4 linked regions of the Homo sapiens genome follow. The protein of the gene in region 3 purifies or fractionates together with the protein of the main gene of each other region. This does not show direct contact. Each region holds a gene or a part of one and is shown on either strand. Other genes may lie near its edges.

Region 1 (3,266 bases), on a different chromosome or scaffold from region 3:
CTGACCCCAGTGCTCCACAGTAACCTGGAAGGCAGCGTTCGCCCTCTGTGCGTACACACAGCAACCCTGTCCCTCAGCACTGTCAACTGTCTTGGTAGAAAACCTCCCATGAGGTGGGAGATCGAGACCATCCTAGCTAACATGGTGAAACCCCGTCTCTACTAAAAATACAACAAAACTAGCCGGGTGTGGTGGTGGGCACTGTAGGCCCAGCTACTTGGGAGGCTGAGGCAGGAGAATGGCGCGAACCCAGGAGGCGGAGCTTGTAGTGAGCCAAGATCGCACTACTGCACTCCAGCTTGGGTAACAGAGCAAGACTCCGTTTCAGAAAACAAACAAACAAACAAACAAAAAACCTCCCACATTTCACTCCAAGTGAAGCTTGTTGATGTCTATTTATAAAAGACCTGGCAATCCAGACACCTTTCCTCAGAACCCAAATCAGGTTCAGGAAGTTGACCCATGGTGAAGGGACCTGGTTAGTTCACTGTGGCACAACCAGGACCGGCACAGAAACTTCATTCTAAGTGTGCCTTAATATAAAAAAAAAAAAAAAACAGTAGAGAGCATCTGACCTGGACCCTCTGCATCTCAGAAAGGTTTATTATCAACTGAAGGAGGTAACATGTAGCCTTTGCTGGGGACAAAGATGTGACAAGTCTCTGCCCCATCCTAGGTGCTGCCCTGCGTAGGGCTCTTCCCAGGCCCGCCCCCCTTGGGCAGCCTGGTAGCGCTGGGCTGGCGTGGCATCCTCTGGCTGGATCCCTCGTGGTTGCTGCGTTCCGCCAGGGCCAATACTCCCCCGAGGGCAGCGCTGCCTTTGTCTCTCCCTAAGGAGACACAAAGCACAATGATTAGGAATGGACGCGCCCCATAAATGCAGCACCTGCTGTACTCGTGCTCCTTGGGCAACATTTGTGTCTACACATTTCCATCAAAGTCGCTTCAGCTAGAGGCCCTGCATCAGCCCCAAGTCCTGAGACTCAGAACCACTAAAGACAGGTCACGCCCCAGAAGCCCTTGGCAGTGTGCAGGGGACCCTTTAGGATGTGTCCTAGGAGCGAAGCCACGCAAGGAGCACACTGCCAAGGGAACATTTTGAAAGGACACATGCCACGGGCCCATTTAGGGAAAGGTAGGTGTGGTGGTCCACACCTAGCCTGGTCAGCAAACCTAGTCTGCCCTGATCGTGCCATCAGCGGCAGCAGCAGCAGCAGGGACGCGCTGCCTCATCCTCAAGGTGTGTTCACGCTGGACTGCACATCTGAGCTGCCCCAGATGGTGACAGGCAGGAAGTACTGCAGTCACCAAGTCCTGGAATTGGGTTTCTGATTTTGATTTTGGAAGCTCTTTCATTGTTTCCTACCTACCCGAGTGTTCTGCAGTGGTCAAGCCTCTTGCTTTCGGGTTTAGCTGCCAGATTCCATGACAGGGTTCCTGCCACAGTCTGAACGCTTGAGACTTTCCTTCTGAACACCAGAGGCTCTCTCGGATGAAGACCACAGGTTCAGAGTTTCTTTGATTTGTAATTTGCTTACTTTACTCTTTAAGATAGCCAAGAAAAATCTGCAACCACACTCGGGCCAGAGCTTTATTTTAATGGGATGCATTTCCCTGGGCTCAGGGTGTTGACAGCATCGGCAAGACTGAGAGGACCCTCCAAGGTACAAACGTGCCCGGGTAGCAGGCTTGCCCGTGGGGTCACAGCCCCCCATGCGGAGTGCCTTGGCCAGGGCTCTCCCCTGCTCTGGCCTGGTGGGGTCTGACCCGTGGGCTCTAAACAGGGCGTGTGTCCCCTGCCTGACTCAGTGTTGGGTCCCCCATTTCATCCCCCCAGCATTTCCTTTGTCCTGACTGAGGGAGTGCCTTGACCACTCTGACCTAATCAGCTACATGTTCCCCCTGCAGGCTCAAACCCTGGCTGGGGCTTGCATGTTCCCAGACACTGATACACGTTTAGGTTGTTGCCTGGAACACTGAAAGATCTGACGTGTTGCTAAGCACGTGGAAACTGGTCCCACCCCAGCCAAATTCCTTGCACCCTCATAGAAACTCCACACCCCACCCCCTCAGTGCGGTGTGCCTAGGCACAACCTCTTTCCTGGCTGTCCCTCGTGAGGGCACGCTGCAGCCCCCTCTGTATATAAGCTCCCTAACAAATGCTTTGGACTGACCACCCTGGCATTAAGTGTTTCTTCCTTTGGAATCCCAACTGGCTCTCATCTTGGAAAGGTTTGGGGCAGTCCCGTGTGGGAACTCCCCTGCCATCACTTTTAGGGTGACTCCAGACAAGGGTTCAGCCAACAGAACACCCAGCCTCAATCCTGGTCCTTCCCTGGCCTCTTATCAAGTGTAGTCAAATACCCTGCAAAGGGAAACTGGATTCCTGGAGAAAAGATGCAACCGGGTGTCTAGGGACCCATTAGGTCATTTGTTTCACCATCTGTCACCCTGAACAAGCAGAGACTCCTGTGTCTGAGATGCCGTGGACCCCCGCTCTTCCAGAGGTACCTCCAGCTCCCTTTCTATGCTAATACCACAAAATTCTCCCCATACCCTGCAGGGATAGGACGGCCCTCCTTATGAGTTTCCGGGGAGTTCTTCCTCAGAGAATGAGATCTTTGCTCATTCTTGCCTGGTGGTGGTGAGGGTTACAGCGGTGTCATGCTGGGAACTCTGTCAGCTTGTCACACTTGGCTGAACAAAGATGGAGTCAGGGTTGCCCTGAGCCAAGGAGGAGCGCAGTCAGGAACACGTGGTGGGTGATGATTGGCCACCTCAGCCCAGCAGTGACTAGTGAAAAAGGCACAAAGCAGACAATAGCCACCACGCATCTCTTGTGGTACAAACTGCCATAATTCTAGTCCCCACTGACTGGTCAAGGGGCAAGGATTCTGTCTTCCATGAGCAGACGGGACCCACCACCCTGCAGCAGCTCCCACACTGGGCCAGCATCCTCCTCTGAGGCCACAGTCCCTCTGCAGGCCAGGCCAGACAGTCAGATCTTCTGTAGCCGCAGCCTAATCTGGGTGCTTAGGTGCCCATGCGCTCTCAGCTCCCCACAGCACGCAGCATGGCAGGCCGTGCACCTAGGCCTGACTCAGAGTCGGCTTCCCTTCAGTTTGCCGCCATCTGAGCTTCCTCTCCTCCCCTCAGTAGTGACCCAGTCCCTTCTGGAAACAAGGATGACAGCGAAGCAGAAAAGAGCAAATAATGCTTTTTTTTTTTTTAAGAGTGGTGGGGGAGGGGGGTTTAGAGACTGAGTC
Region 2 (3,797 bases), on a different chromosome or scaffold from region 3:
AAGGAGGCCCCAGCAAGGCCCCCCGGAACTGCAGAAGGGAGGACTTGGGGCCACTCACCACTCAGTGCACTCAGGACCCTGGATGCTGCTTCCCGGGCATGAGCGATTAATTCTTGTTTTGCAATTTCCATACGTAATTCCTGAGAAAGACAACTGGTAATCAAAGCATCCTGGCCGGGCGCAGTGGCTCACGCCTGTAATCCTGGCACTTTGGGAGGCCGAGGTGGGTAGATCACATGAGCTTAAGAGTTCAAGACCAGCCTGGACAACATAGCAAAAACCCATCCCTACTAAAAATACAAAAATTAGCCAGGTGTAGTGGCAGGTGCCTGTAGTATCAACTATTTGGCGGGGGTCAGGGGAGCTTAGGCAGGAGGATCCCTTGAGCCTGGGAGGTGGAGGCTGCAGTGAGCCATGTTCGAGCCGCTGCACTCCAGCCTCCTGGCTGACACAGTGAGACCCTGTCTCAAAGAAAAAAAAAGCAACCTAATCCTCTGACCCCTCACCTAGGATGCCCAGGACACCTGTGGACTCAGGGCCGGCAGGGGAGACACATGGTCCAAGGGTTCGAGGAGGGACCAGGTGATGGCAGGACACCGCCCCCCCGCCCACCCTCCCCCACCCCCAGGCTCTCAGCAGTGGCAAGGCTGGTTCCAGGCCATGGACGGGAGCTGACCGGCTCTCACAGAGACATCTGGGGCTGAGGACCCCAAGGCTGTGTGTGCCCACCCTGGAAGGAAACCAAGAGGCCTCAAGAGGGGGCTTCCCCGCTCAGCCTCTTAGGCCTGCCCCTGCCCAAGTATCCCTGCTGCCCACCAGGCACCAGGCCAGAAAGGGTGTTCCTGGGAATGGCACTGATTGTACCACCGAGCCCCTCCCAGAAGACACAGGAGAGGCGTGGCCCGTCCCTGACACACTGTCCCTTCCCAGCAGGAAGGGGGCTTGCAAAGGGCGAAGGCCATCTGGAGTGCAGCCAGGACTGTCTGTCCACAGCTGGCGGGCCCGGGGAGGCCCCAACGGAGTTTCCCACGCCAGCAAAGCCTGGGCTTCAGGCTGAGCCACCCAGACCCAGGAGGAGAAGTCAGAGCCCCTGCCTGGCATCTGGCTCCGGACATTCATCTCAGCTCCCCCTTGGCACCCACCCTTCATCTCAACTCCCCGTTGACACCCACCCTTCATCTCAACTCCCCCTTGGCACCCACCCAGGCCACCGCCAGGACAGAAAATGCCAGAAGGGAGGCCCCCATCTTGCACAGCCCTCATGTCCGCCCCACCAACCTGAGACCCCAGGAAGCAGAGGCAGGGGCGAAGAAAGCCCCCGAGACCTGTGGTGCCACGCACCTTCTCCTCCTTGCTGACAGAGCTGTGGCGGGCCACCCTCTCCATGCGCCCAACGTAGACGGCACAGTCCTTCTCAATCTCCTTCAACTCCTCAAGGGAGAAAATCACCGAGATCCGGGGGACAGGGACGTCGGACCAACAGAGGTAATGCTGCCAAAGGGGATGCAAGCACAGCCACCAGCACTCAGCCCCAGCCTCATACTCAGCCCCAGGGAAGACCGGCCCCTCTCTTCCCCACACATGAGCCCCTCCTCACCCGGGGGCAGCAGAGCTTCAGCAGGTTAATGGTCTTTCCGCAGACGTATATGTCGTGGGCAATGTGCTTCAGAAACACGGGAACACAGTCCTCCACCTCTTTGGAGATGAGCACGTAGCCATGTGTCCAGTACAACTTATCTAAGGTAGGGTGAACACCACGGTGGCCGGCATGGCCATGGCCCTGAACCCAGGCCCACAGGCACGGACCCCTGCCCCGCAATCAGCTGCCACCTACCTCGGAAGCTGAGGTACTCGTGGTTCACCTGAATCATGAACTCGCCATAAGCGTCTCTGAACACCCCGCTGTACACCCAGTCGTGGATGAACCTGCAGTGGGGGAAAAGCAGGGGTAGATGTGGTCAACGGAGAGGTGGGTGGGGCGTGGCTGTCAGTGAGGGGTGGGACAGGGGCGTGGCTGTCAGTGAGGGGCAAGTGGGGGCGTAGCTGTGAGAGGTGGAGTGGGGTGTGGCCATCCATGAGGGGCGGGATGGAGTGGGGGCAGGGTGGGGGGTGTGGAGTGGGGGCAGGGTGGGGGGTTGGGGGCTCCTGCCCAGTCCACCTATCCTGCCCTCCCCTTCCTGTGTGACCCCCACATTCAGCAGGTGTCTGACAAGGGACCGCTCTCAAGTGTCTGCCTGGTGGGAGTGCGCGCCCGCCGCGCCTGCCCAGCCCACTGCCCACCGGGTGTAGGGCTCGCAGCTGGTCTTCAGCAGGGACAGCAGTACAGGGTAGTGCTCGTTGCTGCAGTTGTGCAGAGCCTCCTGGTAGAGGTAGGACAGCAGCTTCACGCCCTGCAGACCGCAAAGGGGGTGGGGGGCAGCTCAGCGCACCCAGCGCTGGGAGTGAGGCGCAGCCCTGCCGGCAGCAGCCCTCCAGGGACACGCTCAGCCACCCCCGTTTCCTGGAGCCCACCAGGCTGACACACTCGGCAGGGACGCACAACTCACGGTGGGAAACGCGGCCCTGGGGCCTCCTCCACAGGTGCCCGGGAGCACAGCGCCAACGCCACAGAGCTCGGCCAGGTACCTAGACCCAGAGGCAGGATGAGACCAGGTGACCGGGCTCAGGGTTCCCAGGCCTGGATCAGATCGTGAGCAAAGTCTCCACGTATCTTTATGCTCCCTGGGGCAACTAACTTTAGATGCAGGCTTTAAAAACCACAGGCACCCCAACCACCCAGAAACGGGCTCCCTGCAGGACTCGTGTGCAGCCCTGTGCCCCTGCGCTGTCCACACACACCCCACTGAAGTACCCACACCCAGCAGGCCCTCCCTCCCAGGATCTGGCCAACACACGAATCACCCTGATCCTCCCACTTCTGGGGGCTGCACCTGAGAGCCCCTCCCATCCACACAGTGGTACCAAGCATCTGCCACAACTCGCACCCTTCACAGCCCAGCTCCCCTGCCCCACAGTGTCTCAGCCCTTGGGTCTCCTCAGCGCTGCCACACTCTGCTCCTCAGCCTGGAAGGTCGCCTCTCCCACTGCTCCCAATGCCCAGCTCCTCACTCTTCCTTCTCTGATGGCACCTGCCAATAGCCCCCGAGCCTGGTTGCTCACTAACCAGCTTGTGTGTACCGGACGCCACATCTCCAGGGACCCTGTGTGCCAATTAGGCAGGAGCCACCGGACCTGGAGGGCCTGGATGGGGCCAGCTGTGGTGGGCCCACGGCAGACACACCCGCTCAGCACCGGGCACCTGGTGAACTCGGCCGGCCAAGGGCCATCCGGTCGCCTGCTGAGGGCTGTTCTCACAGGCCCTCCTTGCCAGGGAGCAGGGCAAACCCTCCACCACCCAGCAAGCCCCACACCGCTCCCGCAAAGTCCCCTGCTCAGCCGCCATGCTGAGGCTCACCTGAGCTGCCGGCCAAGTTTCTTGAAGAGAAAACCAATGGTGAGGAGGCTCAGGGTGGGCGGAGTGGAAAGGACGCAGGCCCGGTAATACTGCAGGTACCTCCTCAGGCCACTGGTGAAGGCCTGTGGGCAAAGAGGCTGGGAGGAGGGCGGCCAGGCACATGGACGCAGCCGTGCCCAGGGCCTGAGGGGCACCAGTGCTGGGAACAGCGCTTTGTTTCTTGCCTCAGCTCTGGGCTCCATTTCCAAGCAATGGGCCTCTGTGAGCCACACCCCGCCACCGGGCCAGGTGGAAATGCGGCCCATCCACAAGAAGCCAGAAGCTGTGGCCCACCACCAACCCT
Region 3 (3,797 bases):
CTACAGTTCAGTGGTGCACTCATGGCTAACTGCAGCCTCAATCTTCCAGGCTCAAGCAATCCTCCCACCTCAGACTCCTGAGTAGCAGGAACAACAGGTGTGTGCCACCACACCCAGCTAATTTTTGTACTTTTTGTAGAGACAGAGTTTCCCATGTTGCCCAGGTTGGTCTTCCTTACTATTAATGTCCTTTGTGGCTTTTTTTTTCCAGAGTAGGGTACCTTAATCTGCATTAAACACCTGTTCAGGCAGATATCCTTTCTCTTCAATGATTTTCTTAACGGTGTCTGAGAATTCATCTGCTGCCTCTTGGTCAGCATAAGCTGCTTCTCCTGTATCTTGTTTTTTTTTTTTTTGAGACAGGGTCTCACTCTGTCACCCAGGCTGGAGTGCAGTGGGGGGATCTCGGCTCATGCAACCTCCGCCTCCCAGGCTCAAGCGATTCTCCTGCCTCAGCCTCCCAAGTAGCTGGGATTATAGGCATGGACCACTACCACCTAGCTAGTTTTTGTATTTTTTGTAGAGACGGGGTTTCACCATGTTGGCCAGGCTGGTCATAAACTCTTGACCTCAAATGATCCACCCGCCTTGGACTGCCAAAGTGCTGGGATTACGGGCAACACTGCGCCCAGCCTGTCTTGACATTTTTTAAGCCAAACCTCTTTCTAAAATCAGCAAACCATCATTTGTTGTCATTAAATACTCCAGCTTTAGATCCTTCACCTTCTTTTTGCTTTAAGTTGCCATATAATGACTTTGCTTTTTCTCAAATCATATTAGAGTCAATAGGTATGCCTTTTTATAGTACCCATGTAAAAGCTACATATTATGCACATAAAAAGGCATTTGGCAAAAAGTGCAAGGTTTTTGCACCTGTTGGCATAGCTACAGTGACAACTTCATGAATTTTCTTTTTTTTTTCTTTTTCTGTTTTTTTTTTTTTTTTACGCAATTGGTCCTTACGCTGGATTTATCTTTAAAAAAATTTTTTTTTGTAGAGACAGGGTCTTACTTTGTTGCCCAGGCTGGTCTCAATCTACTGGGCTCAATCAGTCCTCCTGCCTCAGACTCTCAAAATGGATTCATCTGGCCAGGCCAGAGCAAGACACCGTCTCAAAAAAAAAAAAAAAAAAAAGGGTTCATTTATCTTGAAACGACAAGCAACTACCTGTGTAGACCTCAGTCTACAGTACATATCAAGCAATTCAATTTTTTCTTGTAATGTCATGAGCATTCTCTGCTTCTTGGGAACACTTCCAGCATCACCAATGGCACCTTGTATGGGTTTCATGGTGTTATTCTAGGTTTATGATATTGTACTAAATACCAGGAAAAATATGCAAGAGTTGTAAGAGATTAATTTTTTTTTTTTTGAGACCAAGTCTCGCTCTGTCTCCCAGGCTGGAGTGCAATGGCGTGATCTTGGCTTACTGCAACTCCGTCTCCCAGGTTCAAGCGATTCTCCTGCCTCAGCCTCCCAAGTAGCTGGGATTACAGGCATGCGCCCACCATGCCCAGCTAAGTTTTTTGTATTTTTAGTAGAGACAGGGTTTCACCATGTTGGCTAGGCTGGTCTCGAACTCCTGACCTCAAGTGATCCACCCACCTCGGCCTCCTAAAGTGCTGGGATTACAGGTGTGAGCCACCGCGCCCAGCTGAGAAACTACGTTATACTGCGATACGCAATACACTGGAGAGACGTACTGCTCACTGAAGATGATTAATGTTGCACGGCATTTTAAGTGGATACTCACAATACTTGAGTTCACCTCCATAGCAACAGGAGGTGGCCACAAAATTATTAGTAATGTTATATACTACAGTTAATTTTTATGCAGTTATGATTTAATATGGCATCTTTACATTTGTTTACATTTCTCCCTTCTGCAAATGGCAGCATGTGTGGTCTATAGGTGTTTGTGTGCAGAAGTTTTTTATTTTTTTATTTTTATTTTTATTTTTTATTTTTGTTTTTTAAGACAGAGTCTCGCTTTGTCTCCCAGGCTGGAGTACAGTGGTGCAATCTCAGCGCACTGCAACCTCCACCTCCCGGGTTCAAGTGATTCTCTTGCTTCAGCCTCCCCTAGTAGCTGAGACTACAGGTGCACACCACCATGCCCAGGTAATTTTTGTATTTTTAGTAGAGACGGGGTTTTACCATGTTGGCCAGGGTGGTCTTGAACTCCCGACCTCAGGTAATCTGCCCGCCTCAGCCTCCCAAAGTGCTGAGATTACAAGCGTGAGCCACCATGCCTGGCCAGAAGCTTTTTAGACAGGGTCTCACTCTGTTTCCAGGCTGCAGTACAGTGGCATGGTCTTAGCTCACTGCAGCCTCAAACTCCCAGGCTCAATTGATCCTCCCACCTCAGCCCCCTCAAGTAACTGGTATTTTTTGTAGAGAAGGGGTTTCACCATGTTGCCCAGATTGGTCTCAACCTCCTGGGCTCAAGTGATCTGCCCGCCTCAACCTACCAAAGTGCTGGGATTACAGGCATGAGCCACCGCACCCAGCCAGTGTGCAGAAGTTTTGATAAATTTTAACTTGTAGATTTCTGTATGTTTTATGGTAGTAAATGATAATATAGACTAATACCTACATATATTTTTACACTTGTAACATACCAATTTTTTAAGTTTTTTGATATTTCTAGGCTATGCTGTTCATCTGCAAGTTTTTTGAAACTGCTTGAAATCTCCAAAACAGTTTCCAATGCATTTATTACTGAAAAAAATCCACATATAAGTGGACCTGTGCAGTTCAAACCCATGTTGTTTGGCCGGGCGTGGTGGCTCACATCTGTAATCCCAGCACTTTGGGAGGCCGAGGCAGGTGGATCGCCTGAGGTTGGGAGCTCAAGACCAGCCTGGCCAACATGGTGAAACCCCGTCTCTACTAAAAACTACAAAAATTAGCCGGCAATGGTGGCACATGCCTGTAATCTCAGCTACGTGGGAGGCTGAGGCTTGACAAGAATTGCTTGAACCTGGGAGGTGGAGGTTGCAATGAATGAAGATCGCACCACTGCACTCCCGCCTGGGTGACAAAGCAAGACTCTGTCTCAAAAAAGAAAAAAAAAGGCCGGGCGCGGTGGCTCACGCCTGTAATCCCAGCACTTTGGGAGGCCGAGGCGGGTGGATCATGAGATCAGGAGATTGAGACCATCCTGGCTAACACGGTGAAACCCCGTCTCTACTAAAAATACAAAAAAATTAGCCAGGCGTGGTGGCGGGTGCCTGTAGTCCCAGCTACTCGGGAGGCTGAGGCAGGAGAATGGCGTGAGCCCAGGAGGTGGAGCTTGCAGTGAGCCGAGATCGTGCCACTGCACTCCAGCCTGGGCGAGAGAGTGAGACTCCATCTCAAAAAGAAAAAAAAAAAAAGAAAAAAAACCCATGTTGTTCAAGGCTCAACTATAAATGTTAGCCATTATTATTGCTGTTGTTGTAATTAGGCAACTATTCAGTTCTTGCTCTGCCTTGGTATAGCCCTTCACCTGAAATTAACGTTAAGTTGATAGCTGAAAAGTGTTTTACCACCATAAATGACCTAAAACCATGTCTTGTACCTGGCAGCTGCTTCTTTCTTCCCATCTTCCAGTGTCCTCCAATGAATATGATCTCCAAAACCTGGAAGGAAAGAACTTTATAAGCATTCACATAATGAACAAAGGGCACAGTCCCAAGAAGGAAGTGTGCATGTTCACAAGATACCCACTAAGAAGGTTTTCTTCTGTCAAGAGCTTGGTGTTCAAGTCCCAGCTCCACCACCTTCTAGGTGTATGGGACCATACCTCAAGCCT
Region 4 (3,797 bases), on a different chromosome or scaffold from region 3:
TGTTGGAATAGGTATAGCTGTTTTAAAATGATAAAGTGGCAGTGTGCCAAAATAAGAAATAACAGAAAAAATATTGCTAATGGTAGCCTATTCTTTGGGATGCAAAGGCTTTGTTTGGAGAAGAGCCAGGACTTATTGCACTTATTGTGTTTATTGCATTCAGAATGTCGCATGAGCGTTCAGCCTGTGGGAAGTGCTGAGGCTTTCCCTCGTTCTCTTCCTTTTCCCCATTTGCCGCCTGCCCCACCCTCAGTAATTTCATGATGTTTTGTGTATGGCTAACTTATATTTATAGCTCTCCAGTTTTGGCTGTATTTGCTATTTATATTGTCATGGTTCATTCAAAAGATTTACTTTGCGTAGGACACTGTGGTAGCTACAGGAAAGAGACAATGACTTCACCATGACTGTTCCTTTCATGAGCTTATTAGTCTGGTCTTGGAGAGGAGATGTGTAGTAAAATAACCAGTAGTCAGTAATAAAGGTGAAAGTGATCAGGGACGTGAGATGTGCAGGTGAAGCGCTTTGGGTATTTTCAGGCAAGGCTCAACAGGAAGGCTTTGGAAAGAGGCAGGAATTGCACTGGCCATGGAGAAGGAGGAGAATTTGGTTGTGGGTTATTGCGCAGCCCAGGACAAAGGAATAATGTGCATGGAAGTGCAGAAGAGAAATAGGACGAATTAGACTTATCTAAAGATTGTAGTGAAAATAAAAAGTTATTATTTAATAATGTGACAGACTAAAGAGAGACAGACTAGGACCTCATGTAGGAAGCAGGATAGGTTACTGGGTATGGTTTTAGCTACAGGTGTTACTGGAATGACAGATGTTCTCTTAACAGGACTTGGCTCTCTGGACAGGAGGGCTGGGGATCAGGAAGAGTCAGTGATGGCACTAGAACTCTGAGCTCGTGAGGCCAAGTCGGAAGGGCAGCAGGGGATTTCGGGAGAGCATAGCACTGAGAGAGGAATGTCATTTCGGGCAATTTGGTTTTCAGTAGCTGAGAGGACTTACTAGTGGAAGCTTCCAGCATGTATTGGAAATGCTATACTGAAACTCTGGTTAAAAGTCAGGGCCGAATATAGAGATTTTGGAAGCACTTATCTCACCATGGTAACTCAGGACAAGGCAGGATGGTGTAGCAAGAGCTCCCGTGTGGTCCAGGGGAGACACCCTTTCCAGGCATGTGAGAGCCATGGGCCCTCTCACCCTAAAGCATTCAGACATAATTTTACATGTATTTTTTTGTGGGGGGGTACATAGACCCCAGATTGTTCCTGGAATAGAGATAGATGTGATCCAATATAGATTTTGGGGAAATGCTTCTACACTGAAGAGGTGGAAGGAAGAAGAACCAGGAGAGCAGTTGTGTTCGAGTTGTGACCTTTCATAGTTCCTAGAGAAGGCGGCGCACACATGGGCTGTGCCTGGGACAGGGCGTCCCCATGCGCCTGCTGTGCCGGAGGCTCTCCATGAAGGTTGCTGCTGCTTGTGTGAGCACCGCGTCTGCTGTGCTGCTGGCGGCCCCTGTACCCACCGCCCCACATCTGCAGATTCAATCAACTGAGGATCAAAAACACTTAAAAAAAGGCAGCCACTAAAAAAATACACAAAAAACCAAGACAATTTAACAGCTATTTGCATAGCATGTACATTGCGCTAGATATTATAAGTAATTTAGAGATGATTTACCGTATATGGGAAGATGTGTGTAGGTTAGGTGCAAATATTGCTTCATTTTGTAGAAGAGACTTGAGCATCAGGGAATTTTGGTGTCTGTGGGGGTCGTGGGATTGGTCCCCTGCAGATGCTGAGGGTGACGGGGCGCTGCTGCTGCTGACGCTGCTGCTTCTCTGTGACGACTCCTGTGGTCCCCGTCGTCCTGTCCATGGCTGCCAGGGTCTGCGGAGAGCAAAGTTTCTGCTGTTGAGTATTTATAGTATAACTGGGAAGACAGAAGATGCAAATCCTAAAAGACTCCTAGTAATGGTCAAAAAACAGGAGAACATGTCAAATTCATTTTTATCTGTGAAAAAGTTATGAAGATTTAAAAGTGTGAATAAAGAATAAATAGTGAAAATTTAAAAACTGAGCACGAGAGATGCCTCAACCCTGAAGGAGCAAAGAGAGTTCCGAGGAGGCTCTGGGTTCTGTGTCTTCATAGGCTGCTTTGGGCTAAGACTGATTCAAACCTTCTCTTTGGAATGAAAATTTTTAATGACTCAAACAAGGGTGTAATGAAAACATTTCTAGAGAAAAATCTTTATGTCATTAAAACTACGTAGATCAATGGAAATAGAACCCCATGCCCTTAAAACAGGACTGTGGTGAGCTCATCAAGGGGTTCCGTGGTGTCGTGACTCCAGGCAGACCTCACTCATCCTCAGATAACTACAGTTTCTTCACTGGGAGCATCTTAGTTGTTTGCTACTAGTGTGAAATTGGAATAATAGCAACACTAAAATAGGCCTGTCTTAACTGCTTTCTTATTCGGAAGGACAAACAAATCTTAAGAGTCTTCTGGTATATTTAAACTGGGTAACTCAGATAGTGGAAAGAGACTTAAACTCTGAATCAGAAGATCTCGCCTTTCTTGTCCTTGCTTAGTCTTCAGCTAGCGTTTTGCCTCCTTCTCTCAGTCTGAGGTTGTTCCTCCCACTGGGGTTATTGTCTAGCTTAAGTATTATTGTGGGTTTAATGAAATGAAGTATTCATATAAGTTTTAAAAATGGTTTTGTGCTTTGCAGATGTAAATCAGCACTGTAAGAAGCTCTGTTATGTGTATAGTCTCCACCTGCAATTTCTTCTCAATAGAAAGCTATGGAAATGCTTTCTTCCGCTATGTTACTGCTTAGAGTCAGGCGTCTTTATTGGTGACAATCTGGTTTTGTCCCCTAGACATCTCCACCAATCTCCGTAGAGTTCACTCTATGGTGCATGATACTACTACTCAACTTTTGCGAGTTGTACAATTCACAAAGCTTATTTGCATGTGCTGTTTTGGTCTTAAGACTAATTTATGGAAACATCTTATGGGTATGGACGGGTGACTCAGCACTGACTTGCCCTATTACCAGTGTGTTTTGGTGAGATTTACGGTTAGTTACAGTGTATTAAGGGATTTGGAAATCATGAAGACACACATGTAGGTGTCTGCTGTGAACCCAGCTGGCAGAATTGTTTTCATGTGTGTGGTCTTAGGGCTCTGGTCTCCTTTGTGGAATGTCCAGCTGTCTGTGCCTGCGGTCAGTCTGTTACTGATGCCACAGGCAGTGGTTGGCCCTGAGTCTGGATGTATGTGCCTTCATTTCTCCTCTGTGGAAATACAAATTACATATGCATGTGTGCTCTTCCCTGTTGTTCTTTACAGCTGCAGACCTATTCACAGACTTGGAAAATGCATTTCAGGGGAAGATTGATGCTGCTTATTTTGAGACCAGCAAATACCTGTTGGATGTTCTCAATAAAAAGTACAGCTTGCTGGACCACATGCAGGCAATGAGGCGGTACCTGCTTCTTGGTCAAGGAGACTTTATAAGGCACTTAATGGACTTGCTAAAGTAAGGCACTATTTTGATTTCTATAAATAAGTAATATATTTGACATGATAAGGAATCTTGTATTTAAAAGAATAAATTATATTAAAAGAAAATGAGTTGAATTCTTCGAGCATACTTTTTAAAATAAAATCTGAAAAGAATGTAAAATTTTCAAAAGGTAAAGCCCCTTCATTTTTCTCTGGTTATCAGCAGAGCATCATTGTCATGTTCTGTGCTTTATTCATAAGAGAAACTGGC

The links.
Region 1: the proteins of TXNDC12 (region 3) and MZT2A purify together in Homo sapiens (affinity purification with mass spectrometry; 2 studies listed by BioGRID and IntAct, with this or other methods). This does not show direct contact.
Region 2: the proteins of TXNDC12 (region 3) and TUBGCP6 purify together in Homo sapiens (affinity purification with mass spectrometry; 2 studies listed by BioGRID and IntAct, with this or other methods). This does not show direct contact.
Region 4: the proteins of TXNDC12 (region 3) and TUBGCP3 purify together in Homo sapiens (affinity purification with mass spectrometry; 2 studies listed by BioGRID and IntAct, with this or other methods). This does not show direct contact.

What each region holds. Positions count from the first base shown.
Region 1 is NC_000002.12:131,483,389-131,486,654, forward strand, and holds the end of MZT2A (mitotic-spindle organizing protein 2A), read right to left. Parts: intron 2,794-3,266; coding exon of another isoform or gene 2,714-2,793; exon of another isoform or gene 2,636-2,713; intron 831-2,635; coding exon 673-830; 3' UTR 572-672; downstream 1-571. UniProt on the Homo sapiens protein: Required for the recruitment and the assembly of the gamma-tubulin ring complex (gTuRC) at the centrosome.
Region 2 is NC_000022.11:50,224,453-50,228,249, forward strand, and holds part of TUBGCP6 (gamma-tubulin complex component 6), read right to left. Parts: intron 3,577-3,797; coding exon 3,455-3,576; intron 2,626-3,454; coding exon 2,547-2,625; intron 2,391-2,546; coding exon 2,281-2,390; intron 1,927-2,280; coding exon 1,835-1,926; intron 1,738-1,834; coding exon 1,598-1,737; intron 1,492-1,597; coding exon 1,342-1,491; intron 141-1,341; coding exon 59-140; intron 1-58. UniProt on the Homo sapiens protein: Component of the gamma-tubulin ring complex (gTuRC) which mediates microtubule nucleation.
Region 3 is NC_000001.11:52,037,974-52,041,770, forward strand, and holds part of TXNDC12 (thioredoxin domain-containing protein 12 precursor), read right to left. Parts: intron 3,625-3,797; coding exon 3,564-3,624; intron 1-3,563. UniProt on the Homo sapiens protein: Protein-disulfide reductase of the endoplasmic reticulum that promotes disulfide bond formation in client proteins through its thiol-disulfide oxidase activity.
Region 4 is NC_000013.11:112,522,083-112,525,879, reverse strand, and holds part of TUBGCP3 (gamma-tubulin complex component 3), read left to right. Parts: intron 1-3,370; coding exon 3,371-3,560; intron 3,561-3,797. UniProt on the Homo sapiens protein: Component of the gamma-tubulin ring complex (gTuRC) which mediates microtubule nucleation.